4 linked regions of the Homo sapiens genome follow. The protein of the gene in region 1 purifies or fractionates together with the protein of each later gene. This does not show direct contact. Each region holds a gene or a part of one and is shown in the gene's direction. Other genes may lie near its edges.

Region 1 (4,928 bases):
GGTTGCTTCCTAGAAGGCACTTAAGTGTGTCCTAAGAAGTTTGGGCTTGATGGAGTAGATGATGGGGAGTTGGCAGGTGACGGGATCAGATGTGTGTTTAAGGAAGGTGATTTTCTGGTGAAAGAGGAGAGAGAGTTAGGTGGAAGCATTTGAGCTGGTAGCACTGAGCATTGGTGCGGGGAAGTGAAAGTTGGGAGAGGCTGTGGGACAAGCCAGTGGGGTGGAGGTAGGGCTCTGTGTGTGTACAGCAGGGCGGAGGGGAAGGGCAGGAAGGAAGACATAGTGACTGGTTGAGGTTTTATTTATTTATTTTTTGAGATGGAGTCTTGCTCTGTTGTCCAGGCTGGAGTACAGTGGCACAAGGCTTACTGCAACCTCTGCCTCCCAGGTTCAAGTGATTCTTCTGCCTCAGCCACCTGAGCAGCTGGTATTCAAGGCACATGCCACCAAGCCCAGCTAATTTTTGTATTTTTAGTAGAGACGGGGTTTCACCGTGTTGGTCAGGCTGGTCTCGAACTCCTGACCTCAAGTGATCCACCCATCTCAGCCTCCCAAAATGCTGGGATTACGGGTATGAGCCAATGCACCTGGCTGCTTGAGGTTTTAAATCTGGGGGTTGTAAAGACACTTAACAGGTAGAGTGGAAGGGAGTGATTTAGGAGGAAGGGTGATGGGATGGCTGTGTGTATGTGAGTAGTCTAAAGCCTGTTTCCTTGGATTGGAGGAAGGGAACAAGGAGGGGTGTGTGGGCAGACAGCCTTGACACGGAGGACTTTTCAACTCAAGATGCAGATGGAAACAAGGTGGAGGAAAGGTTTCTTGGGACTATGGGACATAAATGCTGTCCTTCTGTATGTCCTATTTTTCCAGTGTTGTAGAGTCATGACCTGCAGTGGACCTGCACTTTTTTTGTCTTTAAATTTTTAAATTTAAAAATACTTTAAGTAAAGATGGGGTCTTGCTATGTTGTCCAGGCTGGTTTGAAGTCCTGGCCTCAGGCAATTCTGTCTTGGCCTCAGAAAGTGCTGGGATTACAGGGCGTTGAACCACTGTACGTGGCCTCAACCTGCACTTTCTAAGAAGGGAAGCTGTGGGAGGAGGGGTTTCTCTTGGAGAGCCAGGACGGATGATGTCAAGAGGCTTGAAGTGGTTGGGGGAGCAACGTGGATTGCTCCGTTGCCTGACTAGGTCCCTTCCTTTTTAGCATTTCTGCTGTGCAGTGGCTCTGTAATGCTAACAAGAAGTCTGAAAACCCTGCCAAGCGCCTGTACTGCTTTTTTGCTTCTCTTTTTTCTGTTCTCGTGAGTATAAGATCTTCTCCCCATCTGGGTTAGCTGCCTGTCCCTCCCTAGCACTGCAGGTAGAGTGAGGAAATTGAGGTGTCCCATGATGGGTAAGCTACTCATATGGGACCGCATGGGGTGGCAGGACCTTACTGTGGTTACTTCTGTCCAGGTCCTCAGCCTAAATGGAAGTTCAAGCTCAGTGGACTGATATACTCTAATCAAACCCAGAAGTCACTGATACCAAAATCGGAGACCAATTTATTAACTTGTAATAGGGCCTACTTCTGTTGATTGGTATTCCTATGTCTATTGCGCTGAGTTTTAATCAGAAGTTGGTTTGGGGGCATGGACTGAGCAGAGTGAGGACAGAGATGTCGTGTCCGGACCATCCAGAGGGGTACCTTCCAAAGTGCCCACATCCTTCTGACTCCTCACTTATCCCTCCTCCTAGTGCTGATCCTTTTCTTCGGATGAGGAACAGGATAGTTATTTACTGCAAAGAGAGCCTTTATTAGCTTTGTCTTCAAATTAATGATGTTAATTTCAGTTGTTCACTAGGATTAGCTGATAGTCTGAGATTTTAAGTCCTAAAAATGAGTTCTTTTTAAATTTTGTTTTTTGAGACAGACTTTTGCTTTGTTGCCTGGGATGGAGTGCAATGGTGTGATCGTAGCTCACTGCGCCCTCGAACTCCTGGGCTCAAGTGATCCTCCTGCTTCAGCTTCTCAAGTAGTTTGGACTACAGGCACACACCACCATGCCAGGCTAATTTTTTACTTTTTTTTTTTTAAGAGATGGGGTCTACCTATGTTGCCCAGGCTGGTGTTAAACTCCTGGCTTCAAGCAATTGTCTGGCATCAGGCTCCCAAAGTGATGGGATTATAGGCGTAAGCCACTGTGCCCAGCTTAAAAATGAGTCCGTTTTGAAGGATCTGAGTGGTTTTTGCCTCCTTAGCCTGGTCTAGCCCACCCCTAGTTTTCCTGGGGTGGACTGCACCTGCCGATCTGGCCACTGGTCTTTCTTGGGGTGAACTGCCCCTGCTGATGTGGCCGCTGGTCTTTCCTGGGGTGAACTGCCCCTGCTGATGTGGCCGCTGGCCTTTCCTGGGGTGGACTGCGCCTGCCTATCTGGCCGCTGGTCTTGTGTGTCACATGAGTTCTCCTCCTGGCACACTGGGTTAATATTTTAGTTCTGAGGTCCTTTGTGTTTCCTCTTCTCCCTGCTGGAAGGCTCCTCCCTTATATGTTTAAATAGCCAGCTCCTCACTCCATTCAAATCTCTGCTCAAGTATCCATTTGAAACAGGCCTTTTTGGAACCAAAAGTAAACTGAACTGAAAGGAAACTCTGTCACTTTGTCTAATTCCTCTTTTTGTAACAAAGAAAAAATTTGCTACTGTGAATTAGTTGCCTCCTTTACTAAAATGTGAGCTCCAAAGTTCAGGGTGATCTCTTTTGTTCATACTATCCCCAGCCCTAACAATGCCTCACACATAATGGAAATTCAGGAAATACTTGGTGAATGAAGGAAGAGAGGGGTGTCCAGGCCCTAAGCTCATGCAGTCATTTGTAAGACAGTGATGTTCCTGTTTCTTTCAGGTCCGGGGATCCCGAGCTGTCCTGCAGCTGTACCCTGAGAACTCAGAGCAGGTGAGTCCCTCGGCTACTGGGTGTGCCGGGGAGTTGGGGGACTCAACAGGTAAGCTGTCCTGGGGAAGCGACAAAGAATCTTATGCAGATTGGCGGGAAAAGGAGGAAACATGCACCCTAGTGTGGCCCCTGATGGCACATTTGATGACCTGATATCCTAAGGGGGTGGCATCTGCGGAGGTGGGGTGGGATGCCTTCTCTTGGCAGATGACATGGTATTACAGATAAGGTGATGCGACTGATTTCCATAACCAAATAAGTAAATGCCATTTAGGAAGGGTGAGAGGGCACCGACAGTTCTCCGTTGTGTGATGTATAAATTAAGGAATGGCGGAGTAGGATGTAGATGTTGAAAGATAAGTGAAGAGCTGTTCCTGACTAATAACATGAATGACTCTGGATTCCAATTGGTGGCCATCTCCCTAAACTTGAGTGGGGAGCTGGGTCCCTGCACTGGAAAGTGAGAATGAGGGGAGTTGCTTTGTTCTGTAATTCTCCTGAGGGAGGTGTGGGCCATGCCAGATTCTAGCCTGTACTTTTCTCTACGTGGCTTACAGCGACCTTAAGTTCTCCCAGGCAGGATTTGTCCTGGAGCAGACTGGCTTCTGAAGGAGGGGAGGGAGGTGAAGCTGTCTGCTCCTCTCAACCTCCGCTGCCTGACCCGCTGCCTTTCTTTCCTCAGTTGGAGCTGATCACAACCCAGGCCACAAAGGCAGGCTTCTCCGGTGGCATGGTGGTAGACTACCCTAACAGTGCCAAAGCAAAGAAGTGAGCGCTGGGGGCCGGTGTGCTGCCTGGGCTGCAGGAGGGAGGGTAGTGGCATAGCCCTTTCAGGCCACTCAGTGGTGCAGAGGAGTGCTGGGGTGTGGGTCACCAGGGTCCAGGCAGGCGGAGGGGGTGCGGGTGGGGGAGCTGAGGGCTTGTCTCCCTGTGGGGCTTTCTCCACCCAACCCTCACTTTGCACTTTCTCCTTTCAGATTCTACCTCTGCTTGTTTTCTGGGCCTTCGACCTTTATACCAGAGGTGAGGGACACTGGGTTTGCAGGCAGGCCTGTGTCTTTTGACTTCCAGGCAGTGGGGCTCAGCCTGCAGAGCCTGCTGGGAGAACACTGGTGGGGAAGCAGGGCCCAGCCCCAGAGTGCAGACCCTGGAGTGCTCACATCCTCTGGAATCTGGAGGCAGAGACCTCTGCTCTGCAGGTCCCAGAAAGGCGTGTCAGTTCCTTCTCGTGGGACTGGACCTCGTCCCTGTCGGAAGGGTCAGGCCTGGGTGCCTGGGCTTCTGGAGTGGGGCAGATGGTTTGAGAACTCTCCAGGGTGACCTGAGTGCACTTTGGTTCCTGCAGGGGCTGAGTGAAAATCAGGATGAAGTTGAACCCAGGGAGTCTGTGTTCACCAATGAGAGGTAAAGCAACTGCTGAAGCCTGCCCCGGCTGCAGCGGGGGCTGCCACATTTGTTAGACATGGACTTTCTCTCTGCCCTCACCCAAGCCTCTCAGGTCACATGCAGCAGGGACACCAAGGTGACGGTAGAAACATCAGGTCCCATTTGGACTGTGCCTGTTTGGGGCTAGGGGTTTGGGGTCCTGGATGTCTGGGTGCAGCCATGCAGCCTGGACTCCCTTTGTGAGCCCACACATGCCCCTTCCCCTTGCCACGCCTGGCAGGCTGTCTCCTTCTTTTCTGATGCTGCCCTCCACCTGCATCTGGGACCCTCTCCCTTGGGTGCTGTGGCTCTCCCTTCCTTCCTGCATCCTCATCTTGACTCTCCTGGGTCACTGCTGTCGGCACACAGACATGCTGCACAATTTCTCCTTTTCTAGAAAAGTTCCTTCCTTAACCCCATAACAACAACTAACCACCCCGTTGTTGCTTCCCTTCATAGCAGAACTCAGACCTGCCTCTTCTTCCCCTCCCACCATTCTCTCAATCCACTTCTCAGGCTGACAATTCTGTCTCATCACAAATTGTTCTTGTCAACTCCACCACCAATT
Region 2 (4,516 bases), on another chromosome or scaffold:
CCTGTACTGGATTTTTCACATCCATCTTCATTTTTCTGTCATAGTGTCGATTGTTCCATTATCCCAGTTGCATTGTAGACTCAGAGCAAAGATCAACACTCAAATTATATGGTCCAATTAAACTACCAAGTTGTTGAGCAAAAAGACAGATGCATCTGGGCTCTGGACTGAGCTTTCCACTTACTGCAGTGTTCTATCAGTGTGGCAAGTGAAGTTTTAAATAGGTCTCTTTAAAAAAACTTTGGAACTGACCTTTGCTCTAATGTAAGTCACAATTTTCAAAATGTCTGAGAACTTTCATCTTACTACTAAACACATACCCAAGGTGAGGAAGGCTTACAAACTATACTTTCGAGGGGGCAGATAGTATTTTGGGCATTTCCACGTGATGATATTTTATGTTACATCTCTTTTCTCCATTTTCTCAAAAGTATTTCCTTTCTTAATGCCTCATTCTTTACTCATAATAATTCTGTCTTTTGTTTTGTCAATGGTGTAATTAATTTCATGTGTATTAACACTATGGTGACTAGTTAATTTCCCTAACTGGGTTTATTAGAAGCAGTCCAGACACAGGGGCTGAAAATGCTTGGCTATGAAAGTGTTAAAGTTTGCATGGTACACAGAGGATTTTCTGATTTCTCAGTGTCCCCAACTGTCTTCAGGAATATGTTAAGTAGTTCCTGACTCTGATTTTCCTTGCAAGATTAAACTAAACAGCTGATCAGGAACCCTTAGGGAATCTGCAGCAGCTGGACCTCCCCAAGAAAAGAGAGAGAGAGAAAGAATTTCCAAGCATAAAAACAATGCCTATGGGGTCTCGGAGACCCGTCCTACCTCTGCCCCTGATCAGTGACTTAGTTCCACTTTGCTTTGACACAGCCTTAGCCTGGTGTAATATTACATTACAGTAGGTTTCTTGCTTTTGGAATTCACTGCTTTAGCATCAGGTAAAATTCCACAGAATCAATTCCAATTTTAGCGTACTCATTTTTATGTGTACAGTGAGATTTGGAGTTTAAAGAAGGTTTTTATTTTGTTTTATAAGAAAAAGCTTAATTTTTAAAACGTCTTGGTATCAGTATGGTTGGACTGGGGGAAGGGAAGAAAGGGGTGACCAGTTGTTAATACAAATGTAAAGGATAGCTTTAACAAGTCATCAGGATAAAGCCAACAGCTGTGGAGGAAAAGGAAATGGAATGGGTGGAGGGGAAAATGAGGCCTTAGTAAAAGGAGATCCAAGCATAGAATGTGTTCTTTGTTATTAGAGTCAACACTCAGTAATCCTAGGAAAGGGGGCCTTCAGGAGGAGCATGGATAAATGGAGTCCACAGATAATCCACAGCCCCGTTTAAACTGTTAGTTCTAACTCTAACTGTCTCCCTCATAAAAACCTTTGTTTTTAACTAGAACCATAATGATTCCTTGGCATGCTTTATGCCTACCTTTTGGACAATAATGAACAAAGAAATGTATGCTGGGGTGAGCAAGAAAAAAGGGCTATAAAGAACTTGGAAACAGAAATCTGTATCTTCATCATTGTTTCTCTAGCACCCAGCAGAGTGCCTGGCCAGGAGATAATAGAGTTAACAAATGTTTGATGAATTTAATTGAAAGAAGAGAAAGAATATTAGATACTACCTGGTCTGGGATTCTGAGCCATAGATAATCAAGAATCCATAAATGTTGATTGGATAAATATATATGAAATAGGTGGGAATTGATTTTCTGAGTTCCAAATTTGTGGGAAGAAGTGAGGAAGAAAGAACATTTGAATTTCATCCACATTTGGCCAAAAGTTGATGTACTTTCTACCATCTTTAAACAATTTAATAATCCAGGCACTGGGGGAAAAACCAAAAAAAAAGCTTCCAGTCTCTTGTTTCCAAAGGTCTTACTTTCTCAGTGTTTGTGGTTTAGCTTTGTATATTTGTTAAGCAAATATATATTCTCATCACCTCTTCACAAAGAGGAAAATAAGACTGTCTTCTCGATCCTTATGTATAATGCTAGTGTGTAGCATTGTAGAAGGAAGTAAATTTTCTTGAATTGTTTCTACTGCATGAATGCTGTCTCCAACTGATATGCATGTTCTCTGAAGGCAAGCGTTGGTCTGCAGCTCCTTTTATAATCCCCCCTTAATCTTTAATATTGGTCTGGGCACATAGTATGTAGTAAGTACTTATTCACAAAGTTATGTTGTATCTAGGAAGTACAATGCCTTATTTACACTTACTTTTTTTCTCTTACAGATTTTGATAAACCTGATTTCAAGAGAAGCATAGTATGCCTGGAAGATCTGCAGATTGGGACAGTTCTTACAGGCAAAGTTGAGAATGCCACTCTCTTTGGAATTTTTGTGGATATAGGAGTGGGGAAATCTGGGCTGATTCCCATACGAAATGTAACAGAAGCAAAACTTTCAAAAACAAAGAAGAGAAGAAGCCTTGGACTGGGCCCCGGAGAAAGAGTGGAAGTCCAAGTACTCAACATTGACATCCCCCGATCTAGGATTACTCTGGACCTCATTCGGGTGTTATGAGTATCCCACGAAGGCCAGACGCTGATTTTATTTTCTCATTTCCACAGATTGACAAGGATAAGTCAGTTGTTTGTAAACTCTAGGTAGCAGATGAGAAATAATTCACTTAATATCAGAAATATTTTCCAAACACTTTCCTTTATTTTTTCTTCTGAATAAATAGAAAACCAACAGTTTGATTTCCTTTTCCCTTAAAGGAAACAACTAATACACATTCTTATATGGCTTTATGTAGTAATAGTTTTCTGACTAAAATTTTGTTTTTTATTTTTTGTAATTTATCTTTAACTCCTTTTGCATTTTGTATAACAGATTGCTTAACTTCTACTTGCCAACATCTGCCTTGCTGGACTTGTATGGGATTGTCTTCTTGATTTGAATTGTACCGTCTTTGTTGACACAGTAGGGCTGGGCAGTGTTTAATCCTTCCATTTTATAGATTTTTTTTTAATCAGGCCTTTTGGACTTCATTCATAATTTTGCAATAATCTCTTTTCCCTTGTCATGCAAGCCAAAAATATACCAGTAAAACAGATTCTGACGTGTTTGTAGTTATCAAATGAATGGCTCGAAACACTTCTCAAAAGGATATACGTATTGACCCCAACAATAAATGTTTGTGGCTAGTGACTTGTTTTTTGCTATGTTGATTCAGTGAATGACCTAGAAGTCAGTCTTGATGAAAAAAGATATGGTTTATGCAACCTTTGGAGAAGAGGGAAGCCTTTGAAAATTTGAAGAATGGTTTTGTTTGATTTAGCATAGAAGAGTGTGTCCTTTCTTAAATCAGAATTAAACTTCAAATGGGGATAGAAATGGCCGTTTTAAAGATCAAATATAGATCAGGTGTGAAGGGACAAGAAAAACAAGTATATAAAGGAAGTGACTCTTATTCCATTTTTATTTAGTGGAGATGGTAAGGATTAGCATGACCATTCAGGATCAAAATAAAGCCCACAGTGGACTGGTATCCTGTTCATTCTGACTACTGCTGCTGCTGTTGATTTGCCTGATGAAGATATTTGTATGACTGAATGAGTGTCTGGTTTTCTCCATGCGTGATAAGTAGGGGATAGTTACTAAAGACGACCAGTCTTGTTCATTTGCCTAGGAAACACCCATTGTCCTGGCATAATTTTTAATATTGCCTCTTTTTATTCTCAGAGTGCCCCATTTTGGATGATAAATCATATGGTCAACTAGTAGTAGTCACTAAGTAGTGACTGTGACTATGTTTCGTGATAGTTCTACCTGGTGGTTTGCTGTTTTCAAAATACATATCCAACTGGTGTATGTAGATCTTTTTAATGCAGTAGGTTCCTTAAAAGTTGCATATATCAACTTTTTTGATATATACAACTATTTGCCTAGCAATTTCATTTCTGAAATGCTTTTCCTCTGTTTCTTAGTGGTCTTTAACTGATAGTGGATATATCTTAATGTTATAACTTTAAGTTGATCTTCCTACTCACTCCTCCCAATATTCTTCCAGGTTCATAATCTATAGATCAGTAATGAATGATGTGTACCTGAAGACTCTTACTCTGAAGCTCGAGATACAAGTTCACACGAATTCTGTGGGGGAAGAGGCCTTCTCCCTGGTCACTTCGGATATAGGAACAAGAAAAGTTGACAGTGTAAAGCTGCTCTGTTGACCTGGCAGCTAAGCTTTCATGGACACAATAAGGACTTGACATTGCACTAGATTGCATAGTTTGTCCCATCCAGCCCAAACATGGTGGAGGCTGGTATAAGGCCTAAGCTATAAAATGAGGAGCCACATCTCATTTATAACTGCAAAGTGTGCATGGTGATGCATTATATTCTATTCCTAGTCCCTATTCTACTAGTAATCCACAGTGTGCCTTTGAGCTGGTATCTTTACTTCTGCAGACCTCCTTTTCCCAAACTTAAAATGGCATATGAGAAAGCATTTATTCCCATATACATTTACTGGTGGCCTCCTTGTGTGCC
Region 3 (4,928 bases), on another chromosome or scaffold:
TGATCCTCCCACCTCAGCTCCCCAAGTAGCTAGTGGGCGCCACCATGCTCAGCTAATTACTTTTTGTAGAGATGGGGATCGTGCTGTGTCGACCAGGCTCAAGCAGTTCTCCCACCTTGGCCTAGTTCTAAAGCACAGGGTGGGCCACTGCACCTGGCGCGGATGGGTTTTTTGTTGTTGCTGGTTTTAGTATCTGACATGTGCCCAAAAAATCACTTTTTTATTCATTTGCAGTGAACTGCTCAGAGCATCTAAATTAATGGTTTATGGCAGGAAAAGATTTCCGTCTGATGAGATTTGGTAGCTTTGCATTTAAAATACTCATTTCTCCTGGCCTCTTTTCTGTGTTGAAACGTTTGGTGCCAACTGAGTGATCACTGTGTGTGTCCTTGGCACTGACATTGGGCCTCTGGGTTGAAGTCCAGTAGTAACGGTATGTGGTGTGTGTCTGTTATTTTTTCCCCAGAGGGAGAGACAAGCTCAACGAGAAGATGCCCTCGAGCTCACGGAGAAGCTAGACCAAGACTGGAAAGAAATTCAGACTCTCCTGTCCCACAAAACTCCCAAGTCAGAGAACAGAGACAAAAAGGAAAAACCCAAGGTGGGAGCCAAGTACTGAAACAAACTCTTCACTCACTGAGCTTGGGTGACCGACTTTCTCCAGAGAAAGGGCTGGGGCTGGACGGCTCTTCTACCTGTCTCCTTTAGGGCAAGTTTCTGTTGAACATTGATACTGAATTACCTGCTGTGTGTAATCTTGGGGTGGAAGTAGATTCAGTTACTTGAGTCTCTATTGCAGGTGAATTAAACTGAAAAAAGTGGTGTTTCTGGATGGAAGAAGTACTTCAGGGTGGACACGTTAGAATAGGTGTCTGAACTTCCCTGTGACATGTTTGTCTGTTGATACATAATACATACATTTAATATACATTTACTTATTTTTGCCTCTGTAAACAGTTGTTTCCTACTGCATTCTCTTTAGTCGAAACTATTGGAAAATGCTGCATTTGTTTAAGAAACTGCGTTCTCAGAGAAGTCTAGATCCCAGCAGATTAGTGTCATGTGGTCATCTGTGCATCTTTGTCAGTCAGCCTTGATGTTACCGTTACTTTACTTAGTTTCCCACGTTTAGGGCGTAATGCCTGGATAAGTAGCGTTTTTGTTGTTGTTTGAGACGGAGTCTCGCTCTGTCACCCAGGCTGGAGTGTAGTGCAACCTCCACCTCACTGCAACCTCCACCTCCTGGGTTCAAGTGATTCTCTTGCCTCAGCCTCCCGGGTAGCTGGGATTACAGGCGCGTGCCACCATGCTTGACTAATTTTTGTATTTTTAGTAAAGACAGGGTTTCACCATGTTGGGCCAGGCTGATCTCAAACTCCTGACCTCACGTGATCTGCCCACCTTGGCCTCCCAAAGTGCTGGGATTACAGGCGTGAGCCACTGCACCTGGCCTGTTTTCGTTAAAGCAGATGTATTCTGAGAATTTTTCTAGGGGTAAACAAATTCTTTGTGACCGAATGTCCACTGATTTCGCAATCCTCAGGGCTTATCAGAACAGTTTTCTCTCTAGAAGAAAAGACGTAGATGTGGCTTAGCTACTTCAATAACATTATCTAGCCATTACTAGAATGTGCCAGGAAGCTAGATCTTTTCTTTTTGTAAAATAAGAAATAAATATATTTTTAAAATGAAGAATTTCTTCTTTCTACCTTAGCCCGATGCATATGACATGATGGTTCGCGAGCTTGGCTTTGAAATGAAGGCGCAGCCCTCTAACAGGATGAAGACGGAGGCAGAATTGGCAAAGGAAGAGCAGGAGCACCTCAGGAAGCTGGAGGTAGGGTGGCAGCACCTCAGGAGCAGGGCTGTGCTGCTGTCCGTCCACAGCCCCTTCTGCTCCATTTTGCAGGATGGGCTGAAGAGAATACTCTGTTTGATCAGTGGAATATTTTAGTCTATTTAAAGTTTATATTTATTCATGAATACCTTTTTTTTTTTTTTTCTTTGAGACAGAGTTTCGCTCTGTCACCCAGCTAGAGTACAGTGGCACAATCTTGGCTCACTGCAAACTCCACCTCCTGGGTTCAAGTGATTCTCCTGCCTCAGCCTCCTGAGTAGCTAGGATTACAGGCGCCTGCCACCACGCCCGGCTAATTTTTGTATTTTTAGTAGAGATAGGATTTCGCCATGTTGGCCAGGCGGTCTTGAACTCCTGACCTCAGGTGATCCAGTCACCTCGGCCTCCCAAAGTGCTGGGATTACAGGTGTGAGCCACCGCGCCTGGCCCCAGCTAATTTTCAAAAATTGTTTGTATAGATGAGCATCTCCCTATGTTGCCTAGGCTGTTCTCAAACTCCTGGTCTCAGCTGATCCTCCCACCACGGCCTCCCACAGTGCTGGGGTTACAGGTGTGGGCTGCCATCACAGCTGGCTCAGCTGGCTGTTTTGACATAACCACATCACTAGCTTCTTCCCGTGTCCAGTGTGTGGTCAAATAGTGGAGGCCGTGGAGCTGCTTGCTCTTGGCGTCCTGGCTCCTATTCTCTCGGTGCAGGGGGTGATGAGTCCCAGTCGGGGCTGGCCAGCAGAATTGGGCTGTGAAGGCCTCAGAATAATAGGCTTGCCTGGTGACTGGAGAGTATTGGCCACAAAGTTTGAACAGTTGATTTTGTTAAATGAGGAATGTGCTGCTTAGCTAGTGTTTGCATGCCTGATTGAAAACTGCAGGCAGAAAGCAGGCTGGATGCACCAGCCTCAGAGCTGGGAGGACCGTAGGCCCAGCCCGCTGCCCAGGGCAGGACTGCACGGCCCCCTCACCATATGTTGGAAGAGTGTGCTCTAAGACATCTCATTCCTTCCTGCTCAGGCTGAGAGACTTCGAAGAATGCTTGGAAAGGATGAGGATGAAAATGTTAAGAAACCAAAACATATGTCAGCAGATGATCTGAATGATGGCTTCGTGCTAGATAAAGATGACAGGCGTTTGCTTTCCTACAAAGTAAGATGTTTGCCTTCATTTTCTCTTTCTCTCTCTTTTTTTAATTTAAAAACATTTTTTTGGTATTCATTTTAGGGATTTATTACAGTTGGGAATTTTAAATCTTTTTAACCAGTTTCTCTAAAGTTCTTTATCTGGGTGTTTATGGTATATCAGATATTAAAACTTTAGAGAGAAGACTTTAACAATAGTATGTGCACTCACTTGCTCACGCTCTCTTTCTCACTCTCTCTCTCTGTCTCAAAGGAACACAGATAAAACTGATTACTCGGTTAACATCAACTACTTTTGTTAATAACTGTATGATTCTATCTGCATGACCTCATCATACTATTGAGGGAGCTAACTCAAGGCTAGAGTTGTGAATTTTCTTTGAGTGATGTCATTGAGTTTCCATGACTGGTGTAGTTTTTAATTCACGAACTTTATAAATCGGTACCCTTTTCTCGTTTTAAGAGTGTATCAGTCAGGGTCCAGGGAAGAAAAATAGGCAGGACAGGTTTCAAGCAGAAGAGATCCACACAGGAAAATGGATACTGATAAAAACACTAGGTTACCTGGAGGAGCAGAAGGTGCTGTAGACACTCCTCCTGCTAAAGCCCGCAGCCACTGTACACCTTCCAAATCCCAGTCCCATGCTGCTCCCTGGCAAAAGCTGAACCGCGCCCAGCATCCTGCCGCAGGGTTCTCTAGCAGCCTGTAGCTCCTGCGGCTCGAATAGCCTAGAAGCGGGTGGTGGGCAGGAGGCCTAGTGCCAGTGGGCAAATGGAGCACACAGGTTTGTGTTCCTTGCAACCACGTAGAAAGCCCTGATGTGGGCAGCCTCTTGATGTGGCTGTGAGATGGTCCAGCGTTGTCTCCGCCTGTCCTCATGCCCTGTGGTTTCCACGCTCTTGGTAGGATGGAAAGATGAATGTCGAGGAAGATGTCCAGGAAGAGCAAAGCAAGGAAGCCAGTGACCCTGAGAGCAACGAGGAAGAAGGTGACAGTTCAGGCGGGGAGGACACAGAGGAGAGCGACAGCCCAGATAGCCACTTGGACCTGGAATCCAACGTGGAGAGTGAGGAAGAAAACGAGAAGCCAGCAAAAGAGCAGAGGCAGACTCCTGGGAAAGGGTTGATAAGCGGCAAGGAAAGAGCTGGAAAAGCTACCAGAGACGAGCTGCCCTACACGTTCGCAGGTGGGCAAGTGCGCGGGTTTCCTCAGGTTCTGGGATAACCTTTATGACCTGGCCATAGCTGTGTGTGTTCGTCTCCCTCCCAGGGGTTGCATTTGTGGAATGGGGACCAAGGATGCCCTTGGGAGTGCCTGGACACACCCCTGTGTCTGCTGATCCAGGTCTTAGAGTGAGTGGTCATCTTAGTTTGTGACTGTGGTTCTGTAGGCCGGCCCCCGATGGGCCAGATGCGCCTCTCTCTAGTGGTACCTTCACCTCCCTTTTAGTATATGGTCAGCCTCTTGTGGTGGACCAGAGGGGCAGGGCTGGGGAGGTGGGTGAGCATCTGCGAGAAGGCTTCCATGTTCCCACCTGGGCCTCCTGTTTGGCCACGTAACATTTTAGATGGAATATACAGTGTTGTTTTGTCTAGTATGTGGAGAAAAATTGTCCAGGCCAGGTGCGTGGCTGATGCCTATAATCCCAACACTTTGGGAGGCCAAGGTGGGTGGGTCACTTGAGCCTTGGAGTTTGAGACCAGCCTGGGCAACATTGCGAAACCTCGTCTCTACCAAAAATATAAAAAATAAGCCTGGTGCAATAGCTTGTGCCTGTGTTCCTAGCTGGTCAGGAGGCTGAGGTGGGAGGATCACTTGAGCCTGGGAGGCGGAGGTTGCAGTGAGCCGAGATTACACCACTGCACTCTAGCCTGGGTGACAGAGCAAGACCCTGTCTCAAAACAAAGAAAAGAAAAATGGTCAGGTTCTAGTAAGC
Region 4 (4,928 bases), on another chromosome or scaffold:
TTTAATGCCATTTTGAGATGATTCTCACCTGTTTTTCAGAGCATAGCTTTAAGAGACTCTTGGACATTTTAGTGGTGATTTGGTGATTAAAGTAATAAGATCACTTTAGTAGGTTATTTCAGATTGACTTTCTCAGTCAGAATTTTACCTTTTTAATTAAAGCTGCTAGTCTAGTTGAAAGTTTTGGAACCATTAAAATATGTTTGAGTTAAGTGCTTCATATCATCCTTGGGTTTTATTATGCCTGGTTAATAATTTGGGTTATATCTGTGTATTCAGATGGAAATTTCTGTGTTTCCTGACAGATGTTGGATTTCAGTATGTTATCTTCTCTTTTAGGTATTTTCAACCACCAGGAACTTGGATACAGTGTGCTTTAGAATCCAGGGAACTTCTTGCTTTGTGCTTGAAAAAAATCAAAGCCCCTCTGAGTAAGGTAAGTTAAACAGCTAAAATCAGTATTCATAGGTATGTTTTCATTAAAGGTCTCATTTTCAGAAAATTCTTGTGAGTAGGTTTTTCAAAAGGAATTTTTTTTTTTTTTTTTTTTTTTGAGGTGGGGTCTTGAACTGTCACCTGGGCTAGGCTAGAGTACAATGGTGTGATCTCGGCTCACTGCAACCTCTGCCTCCCGGGTTCACACGATTCTCCTGCCTCAGCCTCCCAAGTAGCTGGGATTATAGGCGCACACCACCACATCTGGCTAATTTTTTGTATTTTTAGTAGAGACAGGGTTTCACTATGTTGGCCAGATTGGTCTCGAACTCCTGACCTCGTGATCTGCCTGCCTCGGCCTCCCAAAGTGCTGGGATTACAGGCGTGAGCCACCATGCTGGCCTCGAAAGTAACTATTAAATGTTACTATTGTTGCCAGTAGCACCCCACTACAAACACTTTTTAAAGTTATATATATTCTTTTTATGAAAAGTAAAAATATCTTTTTGCTTTAAAAAGACAGAATTTAATTTTTTTCCTTTGTTATTTATCGAGAATCTCATGTATAATTTTTTAACGGAAATTTTTATGTAAAACCATCACTAAACATAATTGGGATTATAATATTAGGGCTATGTTATTTGGTTTCTTTTTATTGTCATTATTGATCTGGAAATAAAATATTTGTGCCTGTCACTGAAAGTCAGTGCATAAATGTATTAAAAAAAATAGTTTGTTTAAAGTACAGTTTATTTCCTGATATAAAATTGAAAGTGATTGACACTATGAGTTTTCTTTATTTTAAGCTTTATGACTCACTTCTACCATGTTTTTAATTGAAATTGACTCTTTCAGATTGAAGACTTTTCTGATTCTCCTTTAAGCTCTAATAAAATTTCATGTAATAGTTCTTTGAAATTTCTGCCTTTATTTTCCTACTAGGTCCCAGCCAACCCCACAAATTTCTGATGGTCACTTTTTGGCGCTTCTGGCATAAAACTTTGTCTTTTTCCCTTCATATTTTAAAAAACCTTTTTGGTTTTTTTCGCTCCCCTCTGTTCTTGGTGATTTTTACTTTATCTTCTAATCTTTCTAATGAATTGTTTTTTTCCAGTAGTAATGTTTTTAAGTTCCAGAGTCTTTCATGTTCTTGATGCATTTTTTTTAAGTTTTTCTGAAGATTTTGATAATAGGACTTTTTTTGTTTCTTTCTGTTCCCTCATTTGTCTCTGTTTTTTTATGAAGTCAGTTTTTTGTGTGTCTTGGTTTTTTGCTTTTATACTTGGGGTTTTTGTCAAATGTCTAGTGAGTCTTAACAGTTCATTAATTAATTCATCAGATGTTTATTAAGTACCAACTCTGTGCCAAACTGCTTTTGGTGTTGGGGATATGGCAGTGAATAAGGCAATCCCTGTCTTAGAAAGCGTGTATTCTAATTGCACACTAACATGCCAGTGTGGAGCAGCATGTTAGTATGCAGCGATCAAAATAGGTGGATATATTACATGGTATATTAAAAGGTATATTCTGTGGAGAAAGGAGCTAGGAAGAGGATAAGAACTGTGCATGGAAGAGTTGAAATTTAAAGTAAGGGTGTTTAGGGGAGGGCTCACTGATAGGGTGACATTTGAGTAAACACTAAAGATTACAGTAAGGGAGGAAGCTGTGCAGAAATGTGGAGGAAGAGCATTAGGGGTAAAGAAAACAAATGTAGAGACCAAAAGCAAGAGCATACTTGTGTGAATAGAACGGAGTGGTGAGGGGAAAAGTAGTTGGGGATAGAGTCCAGAAAAGTCATGGAAGGCCACAGTGTGTCTGGCCTTGTAGGCCCTTATAGGGGCTGTTTCTTACTCTGAGTGTAAGGAGTATAGAGGGTGAAGGGCAGAGTAGTGAGATGACATGACTTATTAGTATTCCTCTGGCTGCTGTTTTTAGAATGGTTGTAAGGGAGGTAAAGGTGTTTAAGTTTTTGTAATAATCATGAGAAATGGTTTTGGATCAGCAATGGAGGTGGTAAGAAGTGGACAGATTTTGGATCTATTTTTAAGGTAGTAACATTTACTGATGTAGCTGGATGTGTTTTTGTAAGAGACAGAAGAGTTAAGGATGCCTTCCACTGTTCGTGACCTGAGCAGCCAAGTCACTGGGTAGGGGGCATGAGAGTTCATCTGTAACTGGTATTTAGATGTCTACTAGACACTTAAGTAGAAATACTGAGTAGGCAGGTTGATAAATAAGCCAATGAGTGGTCCAGTCTAGAGATAATGAATTTAGGATATAGATAGTATTTAAGGTCATGAATTGGATTAGATTATTTCAGGAGTTTACATAGAGAAGGAAAGAAACTGGAGGACTGAATCCTGGAATCATTCCTTTAATGGGTAATGATGAAGAAATAATTGGGTAATGAGGAGGAATCAGCAAAGGAGACTGAAAGGAGCTGCTAGGAGGTAGGAGGAAAACAGGGTGAGTGTGATGTCCTGGGAGGAAAGGGAAGTGTTTTAAGAAGAAAGGAGTGAGTAGCTATGTGATTTGCAGCTGATGAGTCAAGTAATGAGTTCTGTAGATTTAGTAATGTGGACGACCTTAATAACATGGGCAATTTCTGTTTAGTGGTGGTGGTAAAGATGTCATTTAAATAGAAATTAAAATGGGAGAAGGAAGATAGACAGTTCTTTTGAGATTTGCTGTAAACGAAAACAAAGAAATGGGGCAGTGGTTGAAGGGGAAGTTGGGGAAGGGACACTTGTCTTTTTATGTTATTTTATTTTTTGGAGATAAGGTCTTGCTTTATTGCTCAGGCTAGAGTGCAGTGGCGCTGTCATGTCTCACTGCAGCCTCAAACTCCTGGGCTCAGGTGATCCTTCTGCCTCAGCCTCCTAAGTAGTTGGTACTACAAACATGCACCACCACACCTGGCTGATTTTTATTTTTACTAGAGGTGAGATCTCTCTCTTTCTCTCTCTTTTTGGCCCTGTAGAGCAGAGATCTCACAATATACCCAGACTGGTGTTGAACTCCTGAGCTCAAGCGATCCTCCTGCCTCAGCTTCCCAAAGTGTTGGGATTACAAGCATGAGCCACTGTGCTTGGCCAGGATACATTTCTTAAGATGGTATATATAACTGTATTTGTAAGCTCTCTGGGAGTGTTAGAGTACGGAGGGAAATTTTTGTGAAATTGCAGGGAGAAGAATAATTGGCTGGGGGGTGGCCTCAATAAGTGGAAAAGAGATATAGTACATAGTGAAAGAATACATTTATTTGTTAATTCACTCCTTCATTCAACAAGTATTCAGCACTTACTCTTCACCAAGCACCATTTTGGGAGGCTGTAATATTTCATGGAACAAAGTAAAGATCTCTGCTCTCTAGAGGGGCATTCTGGAGGTTGATCTTGATGGGAGTATGGATAATTCATCTGTGGTAACAGCAGGGAAGGTGTTGAGTGGGAGCTTCTGGGAATTCTCCTCTGGTTCCTTCTTTTGTACTGGAGAAAACAGAAGCGTGGGCAGTAGCTATGTGGGAAGAGCTGTTAGATAGATGTTTGAGGAGAGAGCGGAAGATATGAAATAGTCCTCTAGAACTAGAGGAAATGCACCAGGACAGTGTTGGATGGGTGCTGGGCAGTGCTGAGGGTTACTGTTACAAGTTTAGACTAGTCACTGTGGTGTGCATCTATTTCTGTAGTTCTGTCAGCCACATAGTCAAGGCATAGAGCAGGCAGAGCACTGGATTTAACCAAATTTATAATTTAGCCTAGTGGCTAAGGTGAAATAAGAGAGGGAACAAGGAAATTGAGTGTGTACATGAGAATAATTTTGATTATTGATTTTGAAGCTAGTGAGGAGGAATGAGGAATAAAGTTGGTAGGATGAATGGATTGTCCATTATATTAGCTTGAAAGATATTTGGTGCCCAGGAACTAGAGGAAATAAGCTGGAAAGATGGGAGGTGGTAGTCAGGGAGTAGGATGTTTGGAATTGATAGTTTGGAGGGTTTGCAGTTACTGGTAATAGAGGCATATGAGTGACTGAGATAGGAAGGTGGATAATATTTTGGGAGAAGAAGAACTCAAAGAATGGAGTGAGAGGTCAGGGTATTGTGGGGATCACCTGTGTGGATATTGAAATCGCTAGGTATTAATATTGTTGGAAAGTGTGATGGTGAGCCAGAAGCTAAAATCTTTTGAGAAATGAAAACAAGTGATACAAAGATGAATAGATTACTATAAAAAAGAGAGTTGCGGGTGGTAGAGTCTAATGACTTTAGACTTAGAGCTGGGTATATTTGAGGAGGAGACAAGGAGAATGGTCTGTAATTAGCAATGAAGAGCAAGGACGATAGCTGTCTGGTGCCTGGTCCAGTGATAGGAAGAATCAGTTATCACTTTATATAGCTGCAGGGGAGAGAGAAATCAGGAGATCTAGAAGGTGAAGGGAATGTTCAGCAAAGTTGAGGATTTAGGAGATTTCATTGTTAATGAATGTTGAGC

What was found.
Region 2: the proteins of BUD23 (region 1) and SRBD1 purify together in Homo sapiens (co-immunoprecipitation; one large-scale study listed by IntAct). This does not show direct contact.
Region 3: the proteins of BUD23 (region 1) and NOP14 purify together in Homo sapiens (affinity purification with mass spectrometry; one large-scale study listed by BioGRID and IntAct). This does not show direct contact.
Region 4: the proteins of BUD23 (region 1) and NMD3 fractionate together in Homo sapiens (co-fractionation; one large-scale study listed by BioGRID). This does not show direct contact.

The regions. Positions count from the first base shown.
Region 1 is NC_000007.14:73,689,712-73,694,639, forward strand, and holds part of BUD23 (18S rRNA (guanine-N(7))-methyltransferase), read left to right. Parts: intron 1-1,204; coding exon 1,205-1,301; intron 1,302-2,884; coding exon 2,885-2,935; intron 2,936-3,617; coding exon 3,618-3,703; intron 3,704-3,912; coding exon 3,913-3,958; intron 3,959-4,280; coding exon 4,281-4,339; intron 4,340-4,928.
Region 2 is NC_000002.12:45,387,336-45,391,851, reverse strand, and holds the end of SRBD1 (S1 RNA-binding domain-containing protein 1), read left to right. Parts: intron 1-2,252; coding exon 2,253-2,542; 3' UTR 2,543-3,172; downstream 3,173-4,516.
Region 3 is NC_000004.12:2,949,184-2,954,111, reverse strand, and holds part of NOP14 (nucleolar protein 14), read left to right. Parts: intron 1-466; coding exon 467-601; intron 602-1,714; coding exon 1,715-1,837; intron 1,838-2,866; coding exon 2,867-2,998; intron 2,999-3,033; exon of another isoform or gene 3,034-3,898; coding exon 3,899-4,178; intron 4,179-4,928. UniProt on the Homo sapiens protein: Involved in nucleolar processing of pre-18S ribosomal RNA. Has a role in the nuclear export of 40S pre-ribosomal subunit to the cytoplasm.
Region 4 is NC_000003.12:161,226,908-161,231,835, forward strand, and holds part of NMD3 (60S ribosomal export protein NMD3), read left to right. Parts: intron 1-339; coding exon 340-436; intron 437-4,928. UniProt on the Homo sapiens protein: Acts as an adapter for the XPO1/CRM1-mediated export of the 60S ribosomal subunit.